Linked DNA regions of Homo sapiens: all the other regions are linked to region 1. The links come from fine-mapping of genetic effects on gene expression. A gene starts in region 1. Each other region holds a variant in brackets. All regions are shown on one strand. Distances are between the middles of the regions.

Region 1 (5,101 bases):
TGGGGCCCAGATGAGCTTGACAAGAGGAAATGAGGATCTGCCAGGTCCGCTGGGGGCTCCAGTAGCCCCTTCCTCCTGGCAGTTGTGATTTCCAGCTGCCAGGGCCCCCGCTGGAGGGCTTCTGCTGAGGAGGGAGGATGGAGTAGGGCGGGTTTGCAGCCACGGAACAAAGGCCTGTGGACTTGCAGCTGGCCAGAGAGGCGGGACAGAGCAGTGGCCTGGGCCAGAGGGGCGGCCTGAGATGGGGGAGGGGGCACAGATGAGGAGCTGAAGACAGCCCTCAGTGCAGCTGCAAAAGCAACACCCTCCCAGAGTCCCTGCAACCCCCAACACAACAGAGAATAGCCAGAGGGCTTCACTTTTAACCCTCCAAGGCCAGGGCGGCCTGGGCTTGTGGCAGCACCCCTGGCTTACAGCTGGAGCCTTCACAAGGTTCTGGGAGCTGGGAGAAGAGAACGGGCAAGGCATACCTCTGCAACAGAGGAGCCTTCCCCCTCCAGCCCTGGTCATCCCGCAGGCCGTGGCCTTTGGCCTCTTCCAGCGTAAACAGTGACCGTGGGATAGCTGCGGATTTGGTAAGGCAAATGTTTACTCTGGGGCTGAGATATTAAGACCAGGGTGTTTTAAACATCCAACAATGGCTCCTGGTATCTAACGTCTCCTTGTGGCACACACGTGGGACATAGCCAGCAAATTGTAAAACCCTTGGGAGACTCCCTCCCGAGCCACTGTGAGCCCTTTAGTTTTAACAGGAGTTTATGGAGCACTTTCCACAAATGAGGCTTCCTTTGATCCTCACCACAGCTCCTATGAGGAAGAGCAGGCAAGTAATCCCACTTTATTTATGTGGAAACTGAGTCAGAAAAGATAAGTGAATTGGCCAGATCATGTTGGAGAAAACACAGATCAGACAATGAGGACATCTGACCTCTGGTTTCTACTTGGCCAATAGGGTCTAAGGCTGAAATCACCTCACCCCTCTGGGCTCTGCTGCCTTCACGAGTAAATGAAGTAGGCTAATCCAAGGGGCCCCCCAGCCCAAGTGACTCGCACTCTTCAACTCTACCAATCTTCCATGCTATGCAGAAGAGCCAGGTCTAAAACTCAGGCATAAACCCGTGCTGGACTATCAGGCCAGTGCTCTTTCCACTTCCCCTGCCATGCCACTTCTAATAAAAGGCAGTAGAAAAGCCCCCAAAGCAGCTCTTCAACAAATCACTCCCTCAGCAGCTAGGACTTGGCCTCTGGGTACCTCTTCCCCCAACTTCCTGCCCCATCCCCAGGGCAAGTTACCCAGGGAGCTAATGGGTTGTCCTATCTTCCAGGAAGGGAGTGGAGGACAGCAGGTGTCGAAAGGAGAAGTGAGGCCATTGCATCCAGGGGGCCAGCCCGGAACCACAGGGGAGAGATGTATAACAGAGAGATAAATGTACACTTTTGGTTCTCACTCCCTAGTTTCCTCCTGGGGAACAGCTGGGGTTTAATCACTCAGGATCCCATCCTTGTCCAACAAAGGATGGCCCGGAAAACCACACTGCTGAAGGCGAGGTGGCCGATGTGCTCAACGGGGAGGCCCTCCCCCGCTCCGGACTGTCATTGCCCTCCCTGCTTATTATTTCTTGAGCAAGGGCCATGTGACTGGGCTGCGTGCAGAGGCACGGCTGGGGAGACTCTGGGAACCCCCACTCCAGGGTTCCCCGTAAGGTGAACGCAGTGTGGGTCTCCTGCTGGGGCCCCCAGAGCAGGGGACAGGCACCTACATATGCCAACAGATTAGCGAGTGACCTCGAGGATCAAACTCTTTCGCGGCCTCTAACAACACCCTCCCCAAAAGCCACACCTCTCCAGCCTCCAACCATTCCATTCTCCCCTCCGTTCTTCCTTTTGTGTTCCAAAGGCGCCCCGAAGAGTCAAAGTAGCTATTTAACGCCTTAAAAATTTAAGCTTGCACGCCTTATACTGGCTTTCCAAACCAAAGGGCTGGGTGTAGGGGTGCGAAGAACCAAACCGACTTCAGGAGTGGACGAGGTCGAGGCAGCTGGTGGCCGGGCTTTCCGCTCCCCGCTTCTGGCCCCCACTCTCCTCCCTGCCGGACAGGTAGCCGAGATTCCCAACAGCGAGCACCGTGCGGCGCCAACCCGGAACAGGCTGCAGGCGCCTCCGGGGCTGGCAGGAGCCGAGGCTCGGGTCCTCGCGCAGAAGGGTCCACCCGCCAGGCCCACAGCTCCAGCCAAACACCAGCCCTCGGGCGCGCGCGGCCTCGCGGGCTTCCTGGATTTCAAACTGAGCCTCTCTGGAGCCGCCCGGCGCATTTGCCCCTTTTGTTTCCGGAGTGGAGGGAAAAAAAGACAGAAAAAGTCTCCCCATACGACCCTCCTGCGCTCGCGCACTCTGCGGCAGGGTGGCCCGGGAAGCAGCCAACACAGTTCCAGGCCCTCCTCGGTCGCCCCGGTCCTCACCCCGCAGGGGGCTGGCACGGGGGCCGCGAAGGGACTGGGGCCCCAGCGTGACTGCCGGCACCGCCGCTCAGCCTAATGCAGGGAGATAAGAGGGGAGAGAGGAGAATCAGGGGACACTCACCGAGCGGTAGCTGCCCCGCGGGCTCGGGACGCGCACGGCGTGCGGGGCTGCCCAGGTGCTGCCGCGACGCGGGCGCGAGTTTGAAAGTCGCTCTCTGAAGGGGCTGAGGCCGCCGACCGCTCCCGCCCACCGCCAGCCCCTCAGCTGGCCCGGACTCGGCCAGCTGCAAGCGCGGCCCCCGGAGACCCCAGGCAGCGCGCGGCTTGCCAGCGCCCGGCAGGAAGTCGAGCGGAGCCGGAGCTGCAGCGGGAGGGCAGGAGGGAGCGAGGGAGCGAGGGAGCGAGGGAGCGAGGGAGCGAGGGAGCGAGGGAGCGAGGGAGGGGCGGGCCAGGAATTTTTCCTGTGGGTGGAGACTCCAGCTCGCGGCTGCAGTCCAGCAATTGGCGGCTCTGCGGGGGCCGGGGCAACCTTCGCGGCGCGGCGAGCCAGAGCCGGGGTAAGGCTGCGGCGGCGGCGAGGCCTGGGCGCGGTTAACGATTAACGCCCGCAGGGTGATGAGCGCGCACCCCCGGGCAGCCTAGATGCTCTAGGATACCAAGACGCACGTGGTGGGGTCACCCTGGTGTCACAGACCTGCTATCACCGCCTCCCGAGACAGCATGGACTGCCAGAACGTACCCCTTGTATGGACAGGGAACACCGGGCCCTGCGAAGGGGGCTGAGGGCTTTCCCAAGTGAGTGACCAGCCGGGATCGATCTGGGGATCCTAATCCTACCAGAGCCGGCCGTGTCCGCTTTTCCAAGTCAGAAAGGCATGTCTTGAATTCCTCACCATAACTCGGTCCCTGTGACGCTTTACAGTGGTAAATGCAGACCTCTGAGAAGCTGACGGGAAAGAGATAAAGGAGACAACGTGAAGGCAACTCCACAAGGAACTGTTAAATAGGAAAAATAAAACACAGAAACCTGGATGATAGAGGACCCGTTTTTATAAAACAAAGAGAACCGTTTGTCTTTATGTCTCTGTATATGACCGTGTATGCATGGAAAGGTACACACCTGGAAACTGGGGGGCAAGGGGTGAGGATGGGGGACAGAGACATTCAATACATTTTGAGCAAGAGCATAAATCCAAAAACCCATAATAATTCATCAGTAAAGATCCTGAAGAACAACAAGCCCGGAGGAGGGAAGCCCAGAGTGGGGCTCCGGAAGAGGAACAACGCCCACTGGTTAGGCGCTATCACTAGTTCCTTGGGAGGAGGAATAGGACGCTGATATTAGAACCACGGGGTATATTTGTTATCCAGGTGTACAGCAAACGATTTCTAGAGGTATCATTTAAAACAAAACAAGCGCCCGCCCCAAAATGCTGCTCTGGGCAAATGCAAGCTCCAGGTGATCTACTGGGAGGGGAGAGGCGGGGCAGGCGCGGAAGGAAATGGCTTTCAGGTGACTTTGAAACTGGATCCTGGCGGAGGGTGGGGTGAAGGCAGCGTCCCGGCTCCTGCCTGCGGAGGAAGCGGTAGGCGCTCGGTCTGGCAGGCCCAGAAAGCGGGGCCCACATTCCTTAGGGAGGGAGGGTGTGTTGGAGGCTTGCAGAGCCCCAGACTCGCGGACCGTGAAGGTGAGAGCAGAGATTGCAGAAGAGGGGCTCGGAAATAGATCAACTTAGTTGGGGCTCCGCTAGACCCCGCCGGCCAGGGGAGAAGTGACAAGTCCCCCTTCTGGCCTTCCAGGACTTGTGGTCACCCCTTCCAACCTCAGGCTTTCACCTTTTTTTGTTTATGCTTTCTTATCTGATCACCTGAATCTTACGAATGCCTTCCGGTCCGCTTCAAATTCCAGCTTCCAAAGAAGCCCCCTGACTTAGCCACTTGTGAGCGACCCTTCACTCCTTAGCCAGGACACGTTACAGTGTTAGTGGCAGTCATAACTGTCCTTTAGTGAATGCTTACCATGCAGAGGGCCTGTGCTACACTCTTAACAAACTGTGTCCCTGGATCCTCACAGCCACCTTGCGAGGTAGGAGATATCCTAATCCCCATCTTGCAGACAGAACACTGAGGCTTAGGGGCAAGGAGCAACTTGGCAAAGATTACACAACCAGCAAAAGCAGTGTCGGGCAAGTGCCTAGATGGGTGTGTGCTTACTATGAGTGTGCTTACTATGTATTAGCCATTCTTCTAAGTACTTTACAAAAACAATTGCAGTAACAGAAAAGGAAACTGAGGCAAAGTCACACAGCTAGTGGGTGGTAGACCTGGAAGTCATAACAGGGAATTCTGCCCTTCACCATCACTGCTTCCAGTTTCTTTCTGACACTTGTTATGCCCAATTCACTTGATTATAATATATTGTTTCTATTAATAATTGTTTTAATTTATATCACCTACTTCCTAAAAAGATTGTAATCTCCCTGTGGTAGAAGTCATATAGGAAGCACTCAGTAAAACAATGCTGAATTCAACTGAAACAATCTAAAGAGTTTGTGAGAAATCGCACAGTCTCTCCTCCGATAATAAAACCCTGTGTCAAGGGCCAGGGGCTCCAGGCTGCAGCCCCTCCACAGCTCGGAGCC
Region 2 (5,101 bases), 28 kb before region 1:
ACAGTTCCCACAAGTTCAACAGATTGATTTCTTTTTTTGTTTTGTTTTGTTTTGTTTTTTTGCAACAAGGTCTCATCTGTCAGCCAGGCTGGGTGGGTGCAGGGGCACGATATCCATTCACTGCAACCTCTGCCTTCCAGGCTCAAGTGATCCTCCCACCTCAGCCTCCAGAGTAGCTAGGACTATAGGTGCACACCACCATGCCTAGCTAACTTTTTAATTTTGTAGAGATGAGGCCTCACTGTGTTGTCCAGGCTGGTCTTGAACTCCTGGACTCAAGTGATCCTCCCACCTCAGCCTCCCAAGGTGCTAGGATTACAGGAGTGAGCCACCACACCTGGCCTGAACGATCGCTTTCTAACAGACAGGAGGGGAAGAAGGGCTACTACAGACAAGCATACTTAGACCAATGAAAACAAATACTTCAGTGTTACAGAAGAACCGTGAAGAGGGGCACGACACACCAAACACAGGCTGTCTCTATGGCAACCCACAGCCTCTGGGGCCCCTCAAGCATCTGGCAGTTCACACACCCTAAGTGATGCTGTAGCATTAACTCCAGAAAAGGAAAGGTTCAACGGTGGCCAGCACCTTCTGTTTTAAAAGGCTCAAGAGTACAAAACATGCTTTAGAAAGATGTCTATTTCAGCTAGGCGGGATGGCTCATGCCTGTAATCCCAGCACTCTGTGAGGCCGAGGCGGGTGGATCACCTGAGGTCAGGAGTTCGAGACCAGCCTGACCAACATGGTGAAACCCTGTTTCTACTAAAAATACAAAAAAAAAACTAGCTGGGCGTGGTGACGCGTGCCTGTAATCCCAGCTACTCGGGCGGCTGAGGCAGGAGAATCACTTGAACCCGGGAGGCAGAGGTTGCAGTGAGTAGAGATGGTGCCACTGCACTCCAGCCTGGGTGACAGACAAGGAAGGAAGGAAGGAAGGAAAGAAGGAAGGAAGGAAGGGAGGGAGGGAGGGAGGGAATTTCATAACTGTTAAAACATTTTTTAAATATTTTTTGAAAAAATCCAACTCTTAGTATTTACAGGCTAAAAATCTCAGCCATGTGGAAACTTCAGCTCTTTAAAATGGCTCATTTCCTGAGTGCCTTGGACACCTAAAGTTTGGGGGCTTTTTGTAACAGCTTTATTGAAATATAATTCAAATACAATTCACCTATTTAGAGTGTACAATTCAACGGCTTTAAGTATATTCAAAGAGTTGTACATCCATAGCTAAAGTTTCGATGCTAACACTAGGATAGAGCTACTATCACTACCACCAACGTTATCACTTGCTGAACACATCAGTGTGCTAGAAGCTTCAAATTTTAAGGTATGGCAAGTTGAGGAGGACAAGAAGAGAATTACAGGAGAAGAAAAGAAAAGAGAAGAGAAGAGAAAAGAAAGAGGGCTAGAGAGAAGAAAGCAACACCCCTATTTGGAGCTTTTAACTATAAAAACCATAAAACTTTTGCAACCATAGCAAGGTGGCCTAGGGCTCAAGATCCACCCAGAGCAATACCAACAACATAAAACCACAAAAGCCTTCTATAAGCCACTGCTCCACCTTCTCGAAGGCTAACACCCACATGTCAATCCACACACACATTCAGGGGACCCACAGGTCATCACCAATCAAAACCCAACACATCTGTGGGACCCAAGCCAGGACACCACTCTCAGTCACTTTAGAATCCTTCTCTCCCAGGGTCTTAAAGACAATTCTCACCCCAACTCCCACCTTGGGTATATGTTTGGCAGACACCTGGCTTAAGCCAGACCTGTCCTTGGGCCTTGCACTAAATAGCAACGAAAAAACCAATTTTGAAAACACACACACCCATCACCACGGAGTTTAGAATAAAAGCAAGGTTTTCTCTTTTCAAATAGACGATTCATTCCAATAATCCAAGAACACCCTAGCAAGTCCAGGAATGGAAGAAAACTCAAGGGAGGAAAATGGAACCTTTTCCTGAGACCCAAAATAAATATTTCCTGTCTGGGTTTGGTGCCACTGAACTCGTTTTCCCCGGGTCCTGCTTCTGCTCGGTTGTTCCAGGACTGGGCTGGGCCCATCCGCCATGTCCAAGTGTCACTCCTGAATGACTTGGTGTTGGTATTCCAGAGAGGCAAAGGAGGGAGGGGGCTAAGAAGGGGTGCCAAGGCCGGAGCGAGCAAGTATTCCTAGGGCCTTGAAAAAGGTGGGCTGGACGGGTACAGTGGCTCACACCTATAATCCCAGTACTTTGGGAGTCCGAGACGGGCGGATCACCTGAGGCCAGGAGTTCGAAACTAGCCTGGCCAACATATAGTGAAATCCCATCTCTACTAAAAAATACAAAAATTAGTTGGGTGTGGTGGTGCACGCTTGTAGTCCCAGCTACTTGGCAAGCTGAGGCAGGAGAATCGCTTGAACCCAGGAGGCAGAGGTTGCAGTGAGCCGAGATCGAGCCACTGCACTCCAGCCTGGGCAACAGAGCAAGACTCCATCTCTCAAAAAAAAAAAAAAAAGAAAAAGAAAAGAAAAGAAAAGAAAAAAGTAAGAAAAAGGTGGGCTCCAGACCTGGTAGGCAACGAGGGCCCAGGGGTACCTGGTGTGGGGAGCACCAGCACAGGGAGAGGATGAGCCCCAGGTGTGTGTCCAGCCCCGCTCTAGCCTTTCCCAGGGTTTCCGCAGAGGTGAGAGCCACAGCCCTGGACACTGC[C/T]GCAGACGGTCCCCAGTCTGGGCAAGGGTGTGAGGGAGAGGCCTCCTGCCTCCACAGCCCTTCTCTTACCAGATTGCCGGCGCCCCTGGCGCACATTGGTGGACACCTCATCCTGGGAGGACCAAGCCTTCTTCAGCCGCTCTGGGCTGCAGCGGTACCGATTGGGATCTGCACCCAGGAGAGAGACGATCAAGCTTTTGATTCCCAATTGGCCTTGGCCTACCCTAGACCCTGTCCATAACCAGCCAGACCTCTATACCCACCCAGCTCCAGGGCCAGGAGCCTCCAGAGCTCCCTCCATCTTCCAGCTGGGAGCTTCAGGCACTGAGAGTCCCACCGCTCAGCAGGAGAGCATCCTTAATCATGTAGTTCACCCCCCAGCCCTTAACAGGAGACCCCCGCCCTCCCTGCTCCTGGAATAAAATTATCAGGTAAAGCTTCCCCAGGATGCAGCCTGACCTAGCAATGTGCACGATTAGGGACAAAACAGGCAGAAAAGGGTACACTTACAATAGGAATCCATTTCCAAGATGGCTTCCTTGGCCTGAAGGGGAAGGAAACACACCTGGTTATTACCTTACCATGTGCCGGCCTTCCCTGCCCATAGGACCCACTGTTGCTGTACGAGGACACCCCACAGTGCTGCACCAAGGCCCGGGGCATCTGCTGTACTGACACTCACTGTCCACTGGAGCCCAAATCCAGAAGGTGAGCCCCCAATGGACCTTGCAGAGCTGGCTCAGAGGAGCACATTCTCCTTGCACACAGTCAGGAGCTGGGGGAACTCACCTTCTGGGGAATGGTGGCATGGTGGTTCTCTAGGATGAGCCTCTTGATGTGGTGAGTCCAGTTCCGTTTCTCCTCCACTGTCTTGGCCTGGGAGGACCCAAGGGAAAGGGACCCAGTGGTTATCATTACAGGCCTGAAGCTGTCTAGCATGGACAGTGCTTCCACCCAGGGAGAAAAAGTGGGGCCATGCTGGGGCCTCTGTGAGGTTAACCTGACTCCTCACTTTGACCCTGAGAGGTGCCTGCAATGATCCTTGCCTCACAGATGGAGACACTGGGGCTTGGGGCAGCTAGGTGAGCAGAGGAGCCAGGAGTCCCACGCAGGTGTCCCCTGGGCATCTTGTTCCCTAGCCCCTGAGCCCCACCTTCCCCTCACCTGGATGCTGTACTGCTGCTTGCTGTGCTTGTAGTGGGTGACAGTGAAGCACAGGGAGTCTCTGGTGCTTTCGATCAGCATCAGGGAGGAGCACTAGGGGCAGAGGGAAAGGACAGTCAAGCACAAGGTTGACAGCCTGGGGAAGCAGGGAGGGTGATCTCAGAAGGGTGGTGCTGGAGCCCCAAGAAGCAGACAAGAAGGGGAGCCCAGATCCTTTGGGAAGGAGAGAAGATGGCAGAGGAGATGGGGCAGGGCCTGGTTACCGGGATGTTGCCCTTGTAGACAAAGTGATCGCCCCGCTTCTTGGTGATAAGCAGTGTTTTGTCAAAGAGGAAAAAGGTCCTTTCATTGCGCACGCGATGCACGCGGAATGTGCCCTCCAGGACAAGCTCCCCGTAGGTGGTCAGGTCGGGCCCCTTCCAGTTGATGAGGAGTGACTGAATCTCCTGCAGCAGAGGGGCCCCAATCCCTAGAGTCAGGCCACTGGGGCCTTAGGAGGCTCTGCAAACCCTGCCACAAAGGCTCCCCCAATGCCACTGCCCAGCTCATCCCAGCAGGGTGGCCACAGTCCCTCTTCCCAGCGGAAGCCTGGCCCACCCAGCCCTGCCCCTCCCCCAGCGTCCCAGCCCCAGAGCACCTGGAGCCGGACCGCGTGCTCATGCCTCCTCTTCATGTCGTTGATGTACCAGGCCACACAGGTCATGGTGTCAATGGCATCCTCCACCACCTCAAAGCCATCCTCTTCTTCATCAAAATGCTTGGCAATTTCCTGCGCAGAAGATAGACGCTTAGGTGCCCCTGACCCGAAGGCCCTGCCCTCCCCAGGCCCTAGGTGCTTGGGAGGACCGAGGGGCTACCTGGAGCAGCAGGTGGTACTTGAGGATGCGCTGGACTGGCTTCAGCAGGTAGGAGCCCAAGGGCAGCGAGTGCTGTAGCAGCTCCTGCCGGTCCCGAAAGAACTTGGCCTGCTGCTTGTCCCGCATGCATTCCGTCAGGGCGGCCACGGAGCTGGGAGTGGGAGAAGGGCCAGTCACCACCTGGGGAAGGCCTGGATGAGGAAGTGGGGGGCTCTGGACTCACCAAATGGCTCTGCCTTCCCTCTCACCCCAATTACTCACTTGGGGTAATTGTTGCAATACTGAGTGTAGATATCAAACTCTTGGCTCTAAGAAGAGATCAAAAATAGTGATTTCAGGGAGATTCTCATTTGACAGTAAAGATGGTGGTAGCAGATA
Region 3 (5,101 bases), 21 kb after region 1:
AAATGTAAATAAAATTGAATTTTGTAATAAATAATAACAAATGCCTCATTTATGCCAGTCGATATCTTTCAACTCTCTTTTTCAGTTTAGCAACTCTGTGAAATGGGTATGGGAAAATAAATTATCCTCATGTTCCAACTAAGAAAGCAGACTTAGAGAAATAACGTAAGTACCTAAGTGCATGTGTGCACATGTGCGAGAATGCAGGCCTGTGTGAGTGTGTGTGAGCATGTGACTGTGTGTGACTGTGTAACACACGTGTGTGTGAATATGCACGTGTAAGACTATACAGCATGTGTGTGAATGTGTGACTATGTAAAGCACACATGTGAGTGTGTCAACACCGTGTATGACTGTGTAAAGTGTGTGTGCGTGTGTATGAGCATGCATGTGTGGTTGTGTAAGGCACATGTGTATGAATGCGTGTGAACATGTATGTGTGAGACCATGTGAAATAAAGCATGTGTGGATGTGCACCTGAGGCCTGGGAGGCCTGGCCTGGAAGAAACCAATTGCAGAGGTGGAGGAGCCCCTGAGGAGACAAAAAGCCGTGGGAGCAGGAGCAGGGGGAGGAGAGGAGGCAGGGGCAGGCCTGGAGTGCAGCTGGGCCTGGAGCTTGGAGAGAAGGCCCAAGGTGCTGGTCGCTTGAGGAGCACCACCATGCCTGGGTCTGAAGTCCTCAGGGCAAGTACCCACCAGGCCCAGAGCTCGGGTACAGCATTGCTACCCCTGGAGGAGGCCTTTCCTGGACCCACCCACAGCAGACAGTAGGGGCTGGTCCGGTGAGCCCCAGCAGGAACAGTCATTAACCATGTAAGCTGATTCGGTGCAGCTGGAGGTGGAGATGGAAGTGTCTGCGTCTCACTGGCAAGCTGTTTCCCTCTGCGCTGCATGCTCCACAAGTAGTAACTCCTACACAAACGCTAGAGCTGCAGAGACACAGCCCCCAGCCTCTCCCACCTCAGAGAGTGGGGAGGGCCCAGGCCTAGGGAAGGGATGGTGGAGTGGGCAGGCATAGAGGGAAGGTATGGGGATTGGAGGGGACGTGGAGAATATTTTGAGTGGGTTTGTTGTGGTCTGGTGCAAACTGCTGTGCTGGGAAGGCGAGTGTCTATACTGCTGGCAGTTTCCTCTTCATCCTGCTGGAGCACCTGGCACCCTCCATGCCTCATGTTGGCCAGATGTTCCACTGTCTCCATGGAATGCAGATGTTAATGTGGCAGTTCAGCATCTATCCTGAGCATTGATGTTCTTGCCAGGCTACTGAACCTCTGTGTGTGAGTGCATGTGAGTGTGTGTGTGTGTGTGTATACTGTGTGAACAAGTGCAAGGAGTCCTGGAAAGGGGCTTATCTTGCCCTTGGAGCTGAGGGTAGCATCACTTCTTTTTTTTTTTTTTTTTCCCTCTGAGACAGAGTCTTGCTCTGTTGCCCAGGCTGGAGCACAGTGGCTTGATCTCAGCTCACTGCAACCTCCACCTCTCGGGTTCAAGCAATTCTCCTGCCTCCGCCTCCTGAGTAGCTGGGATTAGAGGCACATGCCACCACGCCCAGCTAATTTTTTATATTTTTAGTGGAGATGGGGTTTCACCATGTTGGCTAGGCTGGTCTTAAACTCCCGACCTTGTGATCTGCCTTCCTCAGCCTCCCAAAGTGCTGGGATTACAAGCATGAGCCACAGCACCCGGCCGCACCACTTCCTTTTAATGCTCCTAAGAAAGCCCAAGCCACAAAGGTACAAAGCAGGGAAGGGCCCTGTTGTGGGTTGAATTGTATCCCCCCAAAAGATACTGAAGTCCTAACTCCCAGTACCTGTGAGTGTGACTTTATTTGAAAATAGGGACTTTGCTGATGATCAAGTTAAAATGGGGTTGTTAGGGTGGGCCCTGATCCAGTACGATTGATGTCCTAATTTTAGGGGGAAATTTAGACTTCGAGACACACACATAGGGAGGACACCTTATGAAGATAAGGGCAGATATGGGGTGATGCATCTGCAAGCCACGGAGCAGCAAAGATGGCCAGCAAGCGCCCAAAGCTGGGTCAGAGCATGTATGTGTGGTTGTGTAAGCACATGTGTACAACTGTGTGTAAACATGTATGTGTGTGGCTATGTGAAATAAAACATGTGAATGTGTACCCGCAGCCTGGGTCAGATTCTCCTTCACAGCCCTCAGAAGGAACTAACCCTGCCAACACCTTGATCTCAGACTTCAAGCCTCCCATACTATGGGACAGTAAATGTTCTAAGCCACCCAATGTTGGTGGCTTGTTAGAACGTCCCTGAGAAAGTAACACAGGCACGATAGCACACCGGTCAGGAGCATGGAACTGAGTCTGAATCCAGCTCCACCACCCAGCGTCACCGCCCTGGGCAAGTCACTCAAGTGCTAGGAGCCTCTGTTTCTTAAAGTGGGACTGGGAAGAGCATCGCCTTCCCAGGCCTGTTGTGAGGATTCCATGGGTTTGGCCCACTGCCAGCCACATGCTAAGGGCTTAGTAAACTGTGGCTGTTATTGTTATTAAGAACACAGCTGTTTTCAGGGTCTCTGTCAAAATTCCTGATGACAAAATTATCTCCAACCTGCACAAAGTCCAAACATGAGAAACTGGAAGAGGAAAACAGAAGAGAAAGCCATGTTGTGGAGGGCATACTGTGCCAGGCACGGTGCTGTGTGCTTTCCCAGAGGAATTTAAATTCTAGGCCGGGCGCAGTGG[T/C]TCACACCTGTAATCCCAGCACTTTGGGAGGCCAAAGCAGGCGGATCACTTGAGGTCAGGACTTTGAGACCAGCGTGGCCAACATGGTGAAACCCTGTCTCTACTAAAAATACAAAAATTAGCTGAGCGTGGTGGCACATGCCTGTAGTCCCAGCTACTGGGGAGGCTGAGCACGAGAATCGCTTGAACCCAGGAGACAGAGGTTGCAGTGAGCTGAGATCATGCCACTGCCCTCCAGCCTGGGCGATAGAGTGAGACCTTGTCACAAGTAAATAAATAAATTCTAGCACTCAAAAGGCTTAGGAGAGGGAGACCTGGGACCCAGGGGAAGGACCTACAGGTGGGGATGGAGGGTGAGGGACAGGTCTGATAGGGGAAGTGAGGCAGGGACCTCCAGGGGAAGGGACACCCAGGCCCTGAGTGCCCCTGTGCCCCCTCCCTGCCCAGCCCCTGGCCATGCTTGCCATCGTGGGGAGGTGCCTCGTGGGAGATGTGGAGCACAAACATCACGGCCAGTGGAGCCAGAGTCACCTGACCCGCAATAATGCGCCTTTCTGCCCCAGCGGAGACAGAGGGCATTGTGTGTGCGGCTGCGGCCTGAGACTCGCAGCACAGCCTGCCTCTCAGAAAAGCATGATTGTCTTGGGCAACCTCTGCGGCCTGGGGCTGCCGACCAGTACGTCATAACAAACCCAGAGCGGGCGAAGGGACAACCACCCTCTAGGGACAGAGCCGCTTTGAGACTCCAGTCTTAGAGGCCCCAAGGAGCCAGGGCAGAAACGGGAAGCAGGCCGAGGTGGGGGCTTTGGGACAAAATGGGTAATTCGGAGCGGTAGGAACTTTTTCAAAGACCCTGGCATAGGGCGTCACAGAATCTACAGCCAGGATTTGTCAGGAAAATCAGTGGTTATGAGGAGATGGTGTGTAGTTCAAATCCCCACTGGGGCATTCGCTGGCTGGGTGATTTATAGCAAAATTGCAGATAAGGCATAGTTTCCCTCAACCCATAGATAGGGAGGTTTGGGAGGATTAAAGGAATTGATGTCAGATCCCTGGTAGACACTCAAGAAATATTAGCTGTCATAATGATTATTAATCTATATTGTTCCAAATAAATTAGAAAAGCAAAATGTTTAGCACAGAGCCTGGTACCTAGTAGCTGCCTAATAAATACTAGCCTGTGCTCTGCATCCCTGACTTCTGTCCAGGAAGCCGCAGTTTTGGAGAGGCTAACAGAGTGGCCTCTTTTCTTTAGAGGCATCCTTTCTCCAGCAGAGAAAGGTGTCTGGTGAACCCGCTGACAATCACTCTAGGCGAATGATCCTGTTCAGTTTCCTCCTCAGGGCTGGGCCCCGGCCAGCCTGGCAGTAGCTTCTGTTTTGCAGGTAGGAGGCAGTAGCCAGGTGCAGACAAGGAGGCCTTCCTTCGCCTGCCTTTGCTGTGCCTCCCAGTGAATTCACATCCTGTGTTCTGCCTGAGCCTCAGCCTGGCCCAGTTCTTGGGAGATTACCTTTCCTTTGTCTCATGTCCTGGCATCTGGAAGAGCTAACACCCTCACCCCAGTCAGCAACCAAATGAGCTTCCAGAGCTCCGGCCAGCCCTGCCCTGCCCACGGCTCGGGACCTTGCAGGAATTGGGAGGGAATGTGCCTCCTGGGCCCATGCCCAGCTCTGACTGAGGCTGGGCCGAGGGCCTCTCCTTGTCCCTCCCCCACAGACACACAGGGCTTTATAGTCAGATTATGCCATGGAAACTATGCACACGGCCTGCCCCGTTCACATGGCCTCAGAAGAAAAAATAACAGTGCCTCCTCTCTCTGCCAAGACCCACAGTCCTTGCAGGCCTGAACTACCAAAGCAGACCTCTTATGTGAAACGGGTCCCTGTAAAAATCTCAGGAGGTCGTGCCATTGCACTCCAGCCTGGGCAACAGAGTGAGACGCCGTCTCAAAAGAAATCTCAGGAGGACTTCTTTGGGGGTGCCCTTAAATCATTCCCCCTCCCCCTGCCCCCGGCCCTCAGCTTCCCTCTCCTCAGACATCTGGAGGGCTCCTCCCACCAGGAACAAAGCCTTATATGGCAGTGTCCTTCTGAGACAGGCTCATTTCCCTCTCTAGTATCTTCCTTAGGCCCTGGGAGCCCCACTCTGGTCCTCCCCCAGCCTCCCTCTTCCTCTTGGGATGAAGTCAGCAGAGCCAACAGGGCGTGTCCATTTGAGCCTCCCCCGCCTTCCAGACCTGTGCTGTCTAATACGGCAGCCACTAGCCACATTTGGTAATTTATTCTTTATTTTTATTTATTTATTTATTTTGAGAGTCTTACTCTGTTGTCCAGGCTGGAGTGCAGTGGCGAGATCACGGCTCACTGAAGCCTCGACTTCCCCAGC
Region 4 (5,101 bases), 40 kb before region 1:
TGCAGCAGGCAGGAGCCACAGGAAGGAAGACGTCATCCGATGGAGCCTGACATCCCCAGGTTCCCGCCCTGGTGAGCAAGGTCTTCATTTGGCTTTGGTACATATGACCCTATACAGGGAACCTAGTGTGTATCACTCACCAGCCTCTTTCTGTATCTGGGGAAACCAAGGCAGTGAGGTGACTGCACTCACCTAGCAATAAAGTAGGCCTTTGGTGCACTTGCAGGCATGTCCTCCTCTGGGGCAGAGAGCAGGTTCCTTGCTGAAGGGCAGATGGTGGCAAACATCTCCCTCAACTGTTTCCCTGGGCCAGTCTTTAGGGAGCCTAGGGACAAGGGCCCACCCTCCCCCTTCCACGTGTGCCAAATCAGCACCTGAAGTGAGGCATTTCCAGCAAGCAACTCCACAGACCCGAGAAAGGAAGGGCTCTAGTGGAAGAGCTAGCATCTCACCACCCCAGGTCCCCTGGCCTGGTCCAGGGCAGCCAGCTGCATGTGACCATTCTGTTGCCAGCTCCCCACACATCCCTCCTGTCACCCAGGCTCCAAGACATTCGACCAACTAGACTGAAAATGCAGGCATCCAGCTTTGGGAGACCCTGTGTGTGCCACACCAGGGCTAAGCTCTCCCAGTGCCCTAGCAAGGTCTTTTTTTTTTTTTCTCTCCTTATTCTACTCTACAGTCTTTTGACAGTATTCCCAAACGAGGTTGACACAGCTCCAGTCCACACCAGCATACCAGGCTTCCTTCCCAGGGCAGTTTAGAGGAAGCTCCTTCTGGGCAAGGTCAGGCGGTCCTCCTTCCCTCTCTCCTTCCCCTTTGTCCCAGCCTCAACTGACTCTGGCTGTGGGAGGTGTGGAGGGTCCTTAGGCTTCCCTCCCCAACCTGGCCTCCACCAACACCCCTAACAGGAGGCCCGTGGAAGGCTCAGCCTCTCCTCCGCATCCCTCCTCCTTCCTGCCTATCGGAGGGAGCCAGGGTCCCCTAGGCTGACCCTGAATCCTCTTCCTCCCTTCATGGGAGGGGGGCAGGAATCCAGAGGAGGATGAAGCCAGCGGGACCACATGGCTTGGTGGCTTGGACAAACAAGCTCAGGGAGGAAATGAGGAGGCGGCGGCTGCAGAGGAATGCAACCCTGTTGGGCACAGACCATGCAATCTGGGGCTGGCCCTGGGGCCAGCTGGGTCCTGTCCTCCACCTGCTCAACCGTGCTTCCACCAACCAGAGGAAACCCATTTACTAGTTTTTCTAATAAATCAATAATGCTCCATGTTTCTCTCAGTTTCTTATTTAACTAGCCTCCTCTCCCTTTGAACTGAGCCTAAGAGGGCTGGCACCATGGAGACAGAGGGACAGCCAGATTCTCTAGCTTGTCCCTGGGAGCCTTATGGGACGACTGCAAGCACCCGGTTCCTGGGCTTCATCACAAACTCCAAGAAAAGCTTGCTCATTCATGCATTTGATCAACTTGAAGGCCTACTGTAGGGCAAAATCATTTCCAAGCAGTGATCAGTCCAGGCCCCTCCCCACAGAGCTCAGGACAGATCTCAGCACTCACTGGACCGCAGAATCATCAGAATCTCTAAGCCTGGGATTCACCTCCAGAGGGCAGTTTCTGTTGGTCTAGGGAGATGGAATGTAAGCACTGCGTTTCCAGAAGGCTCCCCAGATAATTCCAATGGGCAGCCAGTGAGAACCACCGACCTGGTGCAAGGTTCCCAGGCATACCTAGATGGCCGTGTAAGGACTGCCTGGGGAAGGGGTTAACTACAACTTCCTGGGCCCCACCCTCTGAAGAGCCCCAGTCGGGTTCTTCAAGGGAAGATCAGAGGCTAGTGACAACCTCTCTTGAGCAGAAGCAGCGCAGGGCAGAGATAGCCCCTGGTCTGGCAGCTGCCCTGAATCTTCTGTGGTCATTCCACAGTCACTGGCTCCTGCCAGGCCAGTCTCAAGATATGATGCTGAGTAACCACAAGGGCACTGGACAGTGTGAGGGTCAGGGAGGCGGAGGTTGCAGTGAGCCAAGATTGCACCACTGCGCTCCAGCCTGGGCGACAGAGCAAGACTCCGTTTCAAGTGGGGGATAAAAAAGAATCTGGGTCCCTCTGATCTTCCCTTGACCTTGTTAGACTTAGCAGACCCATCTTCAGGTTGGGTCAGAAGGCCCACAGGGCCCTGACCCAGCAGCCCTGCTGAACACTTGTCAGGCAGCTCTACCACCCAGGCCCTGAAGCCTCTACCTCCCAGGCCCCAGCTAGAAAAAAAATTAAGCAAAATGAGTCTGGACCTCTGTGGAGAAAGGGCAGAAAACCCAACTGAAATAGGGAGGCATTCCTAACTCTTCTGAATCAAAGATACTTCTGAGAATGTGATAAAAAGGGAGGAATCATCCCAGAAAAATGCACTTGTACTCCTCATCCAATGTTGCAGACACCTTTAGGACATTTCTAGTCTCCGAGTTTA[G/A]AATCCTTACCTTCAGCCGCATGCAGTGGCTCACCCCTGTAATCCCAGCACTTTGGGAGGCCGAGGTGGGTGGATCACCTGAGGTCAGAAGTTCGAGACCAGCCTGGTCAACACGGCGAAACCCCGTCTCTACTAAAAATACAAAAAATTAGCTGGGTGTGGTGGCTCATGCCTGTAGTCCCAGCGACCTGGGAGGCTGAGACAACGAGAATTGCTTGAACCTGGGAGGCGGAGGTTGCAGTAAGCCAAGATCACGCCATTGCACTCCAGCCTGGGTGACAGAATAAGACTCTGTCTCAAAAAAAAAAAAAAAAAAAATCCTTGTCTTCTAGGATGTTTCCTGGGGACCGGAGAGAAACGCAAAAGGCACCAGATACTGGGAGCATCTGCTTATGAGAAAAACAGTCTATCCACCTCACCACCTCCCTTTTTCTTGGTCCAACTCTGGCCCTTGGGGAAAAGAGCAAAAGGCTGGCATGCGGGACCCCCTACCCTAGACAGGACAGCAGGCTGCTGCTAGACAGAGAAGCCCATGGGAGTCTAGGCAGCAGAAAGAAAAAGCCCGCCCTCACATCCTCCTGCCCCACCTCCCCCACCAGTACCCGGGTGCCTTATGTTTCATAAGCCCAAGTGACAATTGAGTGTGGAAGGAACAACCTCCATGTCTCCATCTCCCTAAGACATCCCTGGCCCATGAATAACCTTCCCTACCCCAGCCAAGCCTAGGAAGGAGTTCACACATAGTGGGTTGGTCAGCAGTGGTTATTGCACCATTGGCAAATAATGAAATGTGTGTACATCAGCGACAACCACAGGGTCAGCACAACAACCCTCAAAAGTACCTGAACTGAATCCACTTCATTCTTGACAGGAGGGGAATAAACAGGGGCCACACACTCACGCACACGCACATCATACCACAGAATGGAAAGCAATAAATTATTGGCTTCATTCCTGCCTGGACCCTAAGAAAAGGCACCGTTACAGAACAAAGCCTCTCCAGGCCACTGCCTGAGTCTCCTGGGGATGGGCTCCTCCATCTGGCTGTGGCCATGGCCAGCCAACGCTGGAGGCCTGAGCAGAGCTTCCTCTCTCTGGGAAGAAGTGAGCTTAAATATTTGGCTTCTTACCAGAGAACAACTATTTACAAGGGAAGCAGCCACACCGGCCTCACAGGTGAGTGGGAAATTGTCTCGAGCCCCAGTGGATGGCACAGGCAGGAGACCCCTGCACACGGGAGCATCCTTCCTGAAGGGCGGAGGGGATGGACTTTCCGCCCACCTGAGGGCCCTGGGCAGGGGCTCCATGAGCCCAGGCTTGAGGGGAAGGATGCCCAGGTTCTTCCCCAACCTCCAACATGACTCCTCCCTCCCCCAGGAGTCAGCATCAACCGACAGAGTTCAAGGCCTGGAACTTCTCTCTAAGGTTTCTCACTCTGCCCTGCTGGCTCGGGTCTGCCGGGTCCCTGGAACCCTCTTCCTTCGGCTGGCACTCTGCAGACTGCTGGAAGTCCTGAACCTGCCCCAGCAGGGCCACCGGTGAGCTTGGTCCCTGGCCACTGCTCTCCTCCAGCCCTGCAGTGGGGCTGGGAAGGGGTCCCTTCTCCATGACAATCACCCGCCGGTTGTCCTCCAGGGTGAGGTCTGCAGTGACATACAGGGTCTCGCCTCCATCCGGCTTGCTCTGGGGCAGAGGCCCAGGGGATTGGGCAGCCTCTCCGCCTCCCCGGCCCCTCTTGGTGCTCAGGCTGCGGCAGCGGCCCACCCTGCCCGACAGAGGTGGCTCTACCATGTTCTCCGGCACCGAGTGGCTCCTGTTGACGGGTGGGCCGCGGGGCCGGCCGCCCCCTGCTCGGCGTGCCTCATCGCGGGAGGCATACTTGGAGCAGAGCTCACGGACGTCGGGCCAGCTGAAGGTCTCTGTGGGGCTGAGGGGGCTCCGGGCGGAGGGCCGGCCCCCAGGCGAGGTGGTCCTCTGGCTGACAGCAGACGGGTTGAAGAAGAAACGCTGTGGTGACATCTCCCCAGCCGAGGAGGGCTTGGGAGGGCTGTGCTCCTGGGCCATCAGCTGCTCATAGTCAAATAGAGACAGCACCGGCTTCCTCTTACCTATGAGGAGAGAGCAAGCTGCCTGAAGCATGGGGCGGGAGGGCAGAGCTGCAAGGGGGTGCTCTGAGCAGGCCCCAACTCACTTTCCAGGCAAGGCTGGTTGTTGGGGTTTTGGGTGTGATGGGAGAAATCTCACTTACCATCCACAGCCTCTTTCATGAAGGGCCATAGGAAGAATGAAGAAAAGGCAGTGGAAAGGGGTCAGGAGTCAAAGGCAGAGGGGGAGAGCTTCTGCTCCCATCCTGCTAAAGGAGGGGCCTGGGGCCATGCTTCCTCCAGAAGCCTCTGCTGGATGGGAAGGGCCAGAGCAGAGGGCATCAAAAGGGCTTAACCAAGAGAGCAAGCTTGGCCTCAGAGCACTGGACTGGCTGCCAGGGCTCACCCTGTGCCCTTAGTGCCCAGGGTCCAGCTTCTCCCTTTGGTAGAGCCTCCTTAGAGGTCACTTTCCCCGAGGAGCCAAGTGGCTCCTTATTGACTCTTCAGTCCCTAGACTTGGGGAAGGGCCCACTTGCCGCTTCTGTCATACCTTT
Region 5 (5,101 bases), 52 kb after region 1:
TAGTCCCAGCTACTCAGGAAGCTGAGGCAGGAGAATGGTGTGAACCTGGGAGGCGGAGCTTGCAGTGAGCCGAGATCATGCCACTGCACTCCAGCCTGGGCAACAGAGCAAGACTCTATCTCAAAAAAAAGAAAAAAAAAAAGTTAAAGGAATTGGGGCAAAGGGAAAATAAGGGTAAGAGCTTCCCAGTTAGTGCTTGGGCAGGGCAGATCAGCTCCATCAGAAAACAAGCGCTTGGGGCACACTGCTAGCACTTTCAAAAGGCAGCTTCCAATGCAGATGATTCCAATTCTACACCTTGGCCAAGCTGCCTCTCCAAATGGAGCAGGGCACGTGGGCTTCACTGTATACGCAGACCACGTGGAAGCTGACACCATAACCTTACCCACCGCAGGCTTCTCATGCACTCACAAACCTTCAGCTGGGCCGGTCCTTAGAATTATCTAGGGCAACCCTCTTGATTTCCAGATGACGAAAGTAAGGCTCAAAGAGGTTAAGTGTCCTGCGGAGACACACAGAGCATGTAAGTAGCAGAGCTGATTCACACCCATGTGTCCCACCGACAGCCTAGTTTCTCCGGGTTACCACACCGCCTCTCATTGCCGTAAGTCAGCTTCCCTTTACTTATTTGGGAAACGTATGGGCTGTATGAAATCATTATGTTCTCATTCTTTTTAAACTGTTCCAGTAGTTATGCAGTTTCAAGGTTCTGAAGGCTAAAAGTACTATTATGTGGTATTAAACAAGGTAGACATTAACTGTGACACGGGAGGGATGTCACAAATCCCATTGCTGAAGCTGAAGCTGTGTTACTTATTTTAGAAAACTTTCCATTAGTTGACTTCCCAAATAGAAGTGTTGCTTCCTGGTTTCCCTTGGTGATTTTTTAAATTGTGCTTAAACATGAGTGTCCAGTTGAGACTACATGCAATTCCAGCATAACCAGGCTTGGTAATGACCAGAGCTATTAACCTGTGATGGACCTTGTATCAGCCAAATATTTACCTAGCTCATGCTCACAACAGGTTGGTGGGACAGATCCAACGGCTCCTACTTCAGCTGGGTTTCCGTTTGGATCTTAATGTGAACACAGCTGCTTGGTTTTATTTATGTACATAGATTTTTCTGACATATTTCATCCTTTCCTAAACCAACTACCCTCGGAGACATTGCAACTTGCTCTCTTGCCTCCATGAGTCACCTAAAAACACACTGGTGGTTTCCAGGACTTCCTCAATGTCTTTCTAGCTGTGTCTGGTGTAAGCTTATGGGCTTTCCCTGGCACAAGTTTGACAGATCTACTCACTCATCTTTAATTCAGTTCTACAAACACTGCAGATGTGGTAGAGGATGGTCGTGGGCTCTAGAACAAAACAGCCCTGGTCTAAATCTCAGCTCTTACTTCATAACCTCCAGCAAGTTACTCAACCTCTTCATGCCCCATTTTGTAATCTAAAAAATGGAAATGATAATATAACCAACCGCATTAGGTGATTATGAGAATTAAGAGTTACTATGCGTATCAGCCCTGGAAGAGTGTCTGACACATGTTGTGAATGCTCAGTACATTACTGACAAAATTCCTGCCTACTCCAAGTCAGGCATTGCCAGGCTTTGGGGATATAAGGGTGAATAAAACACAGATCCTGCTTTCAAGAAGCTTGTTCAGAGAACACACACACACACAAAATATACAGTCCAGGCACGGTGACTTACGCCTGTAATCCCAACACTTTGAGAGGTCGAGGTGGAAGGATTGGTTGAACCCAGGTGTTTGAGACCAGCCTGGGCAACAAGCAAGACCCTGTCCCTACAAAAAATTTACAAATTAGCCAAGCATGGTGGCACACGCCTGTAGTCCTGGCTTCTCAGGGGGCTGAGGTGGGAGGATCACTTGAGCCTGGGAGGCCAAGGCTTCAATAAGCCATGATTGCACCACTGCACTCCAGCCTGGGCAACAGAGTAAGACCCTCTCTCTCTCTCTCTCTCTTTCTCTCTCTCTATACACACACACACACACACACACGCACACACACACGTGTATGTGCGTGTGTGTGTGCATGCACGTGTGTATGGCAACATTACATATTCTTATCATGGACTTTTATTTCTTGATTTTTTTGGAGGTGGGAGTCTTGCTGTGTCACCCAGGCTAGAGCGCAGTGGTGCAATCTCAGCTCACTGCAACCTCTGCCTCCCGGGTTCAAGCGATTCTCCTGCCTCAGCCTCCCAAGTAACTAGGACTACAGGCATGTGCCACCATACCTGGCTAATTTTTTTTTAATTTTATTTTTAGTAAAGACAGGGTTTCACCATGTTGGCCAGGCTAGTCTCGAACTCCTGACCTCAAATGATCCACCTGCCTCGGCCTCCCAAAGTCCTAGGATTACAGGCGTGAGCCACCATGCCCAGCCTATCATGGACATTTTAAAAGAAGATAGTAGCATAGCATTTTTGTGTTTCATATGGAAACTTGTTGCTATATTATTACCACTGAATACCAGCATTTTCATCTAGAATTTGTTAAATG[T/C]CTCTATCCATTAATTCACCAACATGTATTGAGCACCTGCTGTATTCTAGGCACCATACTAGGCACTTAGGATATACATGTGATACTGACACAAAATGTTAGTATATCATTCTTCACTGCCTTCCCTCTTCCTACACTTCCTAGGCCTCACTCAGGAGTGCCTGTGATTGCCTACCTGGTTCTTGGGGCTTCAGGGTAAGTGGGAGGGTGGAGAGTCAGGAGAGGTTGATTCGATCTATATAACGGAGGTGGCGAGGGGGTAACAGGAGAGATGTGAAAATTTCAGTTAGTTTGAAAGAAGAGATTTGGGGAAGCAATTGCTGTGATGAGAAAACTGGGAAAATTGAAGAGTGAAGAGGAACTTTTGAACTTCTACTGGGCATTCTGCAATGTCTTTCCTTCTTCCCATACTTCTTCGGTAGAGACTTCAATGGCTTTTCAGTGCTTTTGGATGTCAAACTGGTGCTGCTTTTGAATATGATGCCATGCTGTAGCAGCCGGCTTCTGAGAAAGCCCTCAGTGAGCCTTGCCTCCTGATGTTCATGCTCTTGTGTCTTCCCCTCCCACACTGAGTTGGGATGAATTATGTAATAATAGGATATTGCAGAAAAGAAAGAGTTGAACTTCCAATGCTATAACCCTCACTGTGGCTTCCATCTTGCTCAGTTGGATCACTTGCTCTCTGGTAAGTCAGCTGCCATGTTGTGAGGATACTCAAGCCTTCCCATGGAGAAGTCCACTTGGGGAAGAACTGAGCTCCCACCCCCACTCCCTGAGCAAGCATAATTTGCCAGCGATGTGAGTGAGGCTACTTAGAAGTGGATCCTACAGCCCTGACCAACATTGTGCTATGGCTTCATGAGACCCCTGAGTCAGAACCACTCAGCTAAGTCATTTCCAAATCCCCAACCTGTGAGAGATAAAAAATATTCACTGTTACTTAAATCTCCATGTTTTGGAGTAATTTGTTACACAGCAGTAGATAAGCAAAACACTGGCCATTAGTTGGCCAACTTTACTGAGGTTACCCAAATATAACCTGAGTTTCCCAGGCCACCTCAGCCTATGGGAACAATAGGGGACACAGCAAGAATAACACTCAGATTCCATGGCTGGGCACGATGTCTCATGCCCTTAATCTCAGCACTTTGGGAGGCTGAGGCAGGAAGATTGCTTGAACACAGGAGTTCAAGATCAGCCTGGGCAACAGAGCAAAACCCCAGATCTACAAAAAAAATTAAAAATTAACTGGGTGTGGTGGCACACACTTGTAATCCCAGCTACTCAGGAGGCTGAGGCAGGAGGATGACTGACTTGAGCCCAAGAGGTCAAGACTGCAGTGAGCAGTGAGTGTACCACTGCACTCCAGCCTGGGTGACAGAGTGAGACCCTGTCTCATACAAAACCCCAAAACTCAGATTTCACTGGCTCTTGCCTTATCTGCTGAAGCCAGACCTATACCTGCAATCTTCTGTTAATCAACCATCCCACACATCCCACCCCCATAGAAAAATAAGAAGTATGTTTGTGAATCATGAGAAGAGGGACCAGTCTCACGTGTATGTGTGTGTGTGTGTGTGTGTGTACAAGACTGTTCTCCCTGAGTGCTGTTTTGCTCTCTCACCCAGTACTTCCTATGGTTTTCAAGATACCACCATCTCCTGCCAGGAGATGGTGTTGCCACTGGAACTCGTGCCCCTGCCAAGCACCAAAGTCTCCCATGGGCCATGGCCCACTTTCCAGCTATTCACCCTGCAGAACTCACTGGACCAAAGCTGGAGCTGCTCTATGTTGAAGTGGTAGCAAGATGCTTCTCTCCTCTCCAATGCACTGCCCTTGCCCTGGAGGTCTGTAGAGATTTTACTGAGATCTCACTTTTTACTCACAGCCATCTCTCTCCTTAGGTCTCAGACATGTGTCCACAGGTTGGGCAGGGACAGAATAAAAATATTTATATGTTGTCATCAGGATTCTCACTAACCTTTAGTGACCCAGAATTTGTGACTGGGCTAGGCTCAACATGGCTACAGGCAGCTCTAGGCTCATATCATGTCAGTTTGGCCATCCTAAGGAGGGAGAGGACTTCTTGCTTTAGAAGACGTAACTCCCAATAAAGAGCTCTGATTGGCTAGGCTTGGGTCTCATGCCTGCCTCTTGGGCTGAAGTGAGGGGGAAGAAAGGGAACTGTGATTGGCAGCCTCATCAGGATCACCTTCCCCAAGGGAAGGAGGCCTGCACTAACCCTCAAATGTGGGTAGGTAGCAAGGGAGGGGGAGAAGCTGGTGGATAAAAACAACAGCTTTCAGGCTAGGAGCAGTGGCTCATGCCTGTAATTCCAACACTTCGGAGGCCAAGGTGGGAGGATTGCTTGAGGCCAGGAGTTGGAGACCAGAGGCCAGGAGTTGGAGACCAGACTGGGCAACATAATGAGACCCCTATCTCTACAAAAATAAAAATAAAAATAAAAAAATTAGCTGGGTGTGGTGGTGCAACTGTAGTCCCAGCTACTTGGGAGGCTGAGGCAGGAGGATCACCTGAGCCCAGGAGTTCAAGGCTGCAGTGAGCTATGAT

Which allele goes with the higher level. Alleles are on the strand shown, and positions count from the first base shown. SD is a standard deviation of normalised expression in the study named. Not every link is listed here.
For the expression in esophagus mucosa of the gene that starts at base 2,861 in region 1, allele C in region 3 goes with a higher level than allele T (small effect, 0.20 SD a copy in GTEx).
For the expression in prefrontal cortex of the gene that starts at base 2,861 in region 1, allele A in region 4 goes with a higher level than allele G (small effect, 0.22 SD a copy in BrainSeq).

What was found. PIP is the estimated chance that this variant, and not a neighbour inherited with it, causes the effect.
Region 2: its variant is fine-mapped to the expression of PLEKHG3 in whole blood (TOPMed, PIP above 0.99).
Region 3: its variant is fine-mapped to the expression of PLEKHG3 in esophagus mucosa (GTEx, PIP 0.95).
Region 4: its variant is fine-mapped to the expression of PLEKHG3 in prefrontal cortex (BrainSeq, PIP 0.95).
Region 5: its variant is fine-mapped to the expression of PLEKHG3 in lung (TOPMed, PIP 0.99).

What each region holds. Positions count from the first base shown.
Region 1 is chr14:64,702,184-64,707,284 of GRCh38, reverse strand. PLEKHG3 (pleckstrin homology and RhoGEF domain containing G3) reads right to left here and starts at 2,861. Exons shown (of 17, transcript NM_001308147.2): 1 at 2,581-2,861. RefSeq lists an enhancer at 4,081-4,582.
Region 2 is chr14:64,730,572-64,735,672 of GRCh38, reverse strand. PLEKHG3 (pleckstrin homology and RhoGEF domain containing G3) reads right to left here. Exons shown (of 17, transcript NM_001308147.2): 5 at 4,985-5,031; 6 at 4,724-4,874; 7 at 4,504-4,635; 8 at 4,130-4,312; 9 at 3,867-3,959; 10 at 3,492-3,578; 11 at 3,213-3,246; 12 at 2,772-2,870. Among named protein-coding and RNA genes, the nearest start is that of PLEKHG3, 29 kb to the right of the region's middle. The variant C/T (reference allele first, on the strand shown) is at 2,703.
Region 3 is chr14:64,681,643-64,686,743 of GRCh38, reverse strand. No RefSeq gene overlaps it. Among named protein-coding and RNA genes, the nearest start is that of PLEKHG3, 20 kb to the left of the region's middle. The variant T/C (reference allele first, on the strand shown) is at 2,717.
Region 4 is chr14:64,742,452-64,747,552 of GRCh38, reverse strand. PLEKHG3 (pleckstrin homology and RhoGEF domain containing G3) reads right to left here. Exons shown (of 17, transcript NM_001308147.2): 16 at 5,098-5,101; 17 at 1-4,571. The coding sequence ends at 3,850. It overlaps SPTB (spectrin beta, erythrocytic), which reads left to right. Exons shown (of 36, transcript NM_001355436.2): 36 at 1-1,270. Among named protein-coding and RNA genes, the nearest start is that of PLEKHG3, 41 kb to the right of the region's middle. The variant G/A (reference allele first, on the strand shown) is at 2,464.
Region 5 is chr14:64,650,551-64,655,651 of GRCh38, reverse strand. No RefSeq gene overlaps it. Among named protein-coding and RNA genes, the nearest start is that of PLEKHG3, 51 kb to the left of the region's middle. The variant T/C (reference allele first, on the strand shown) is at 2,531.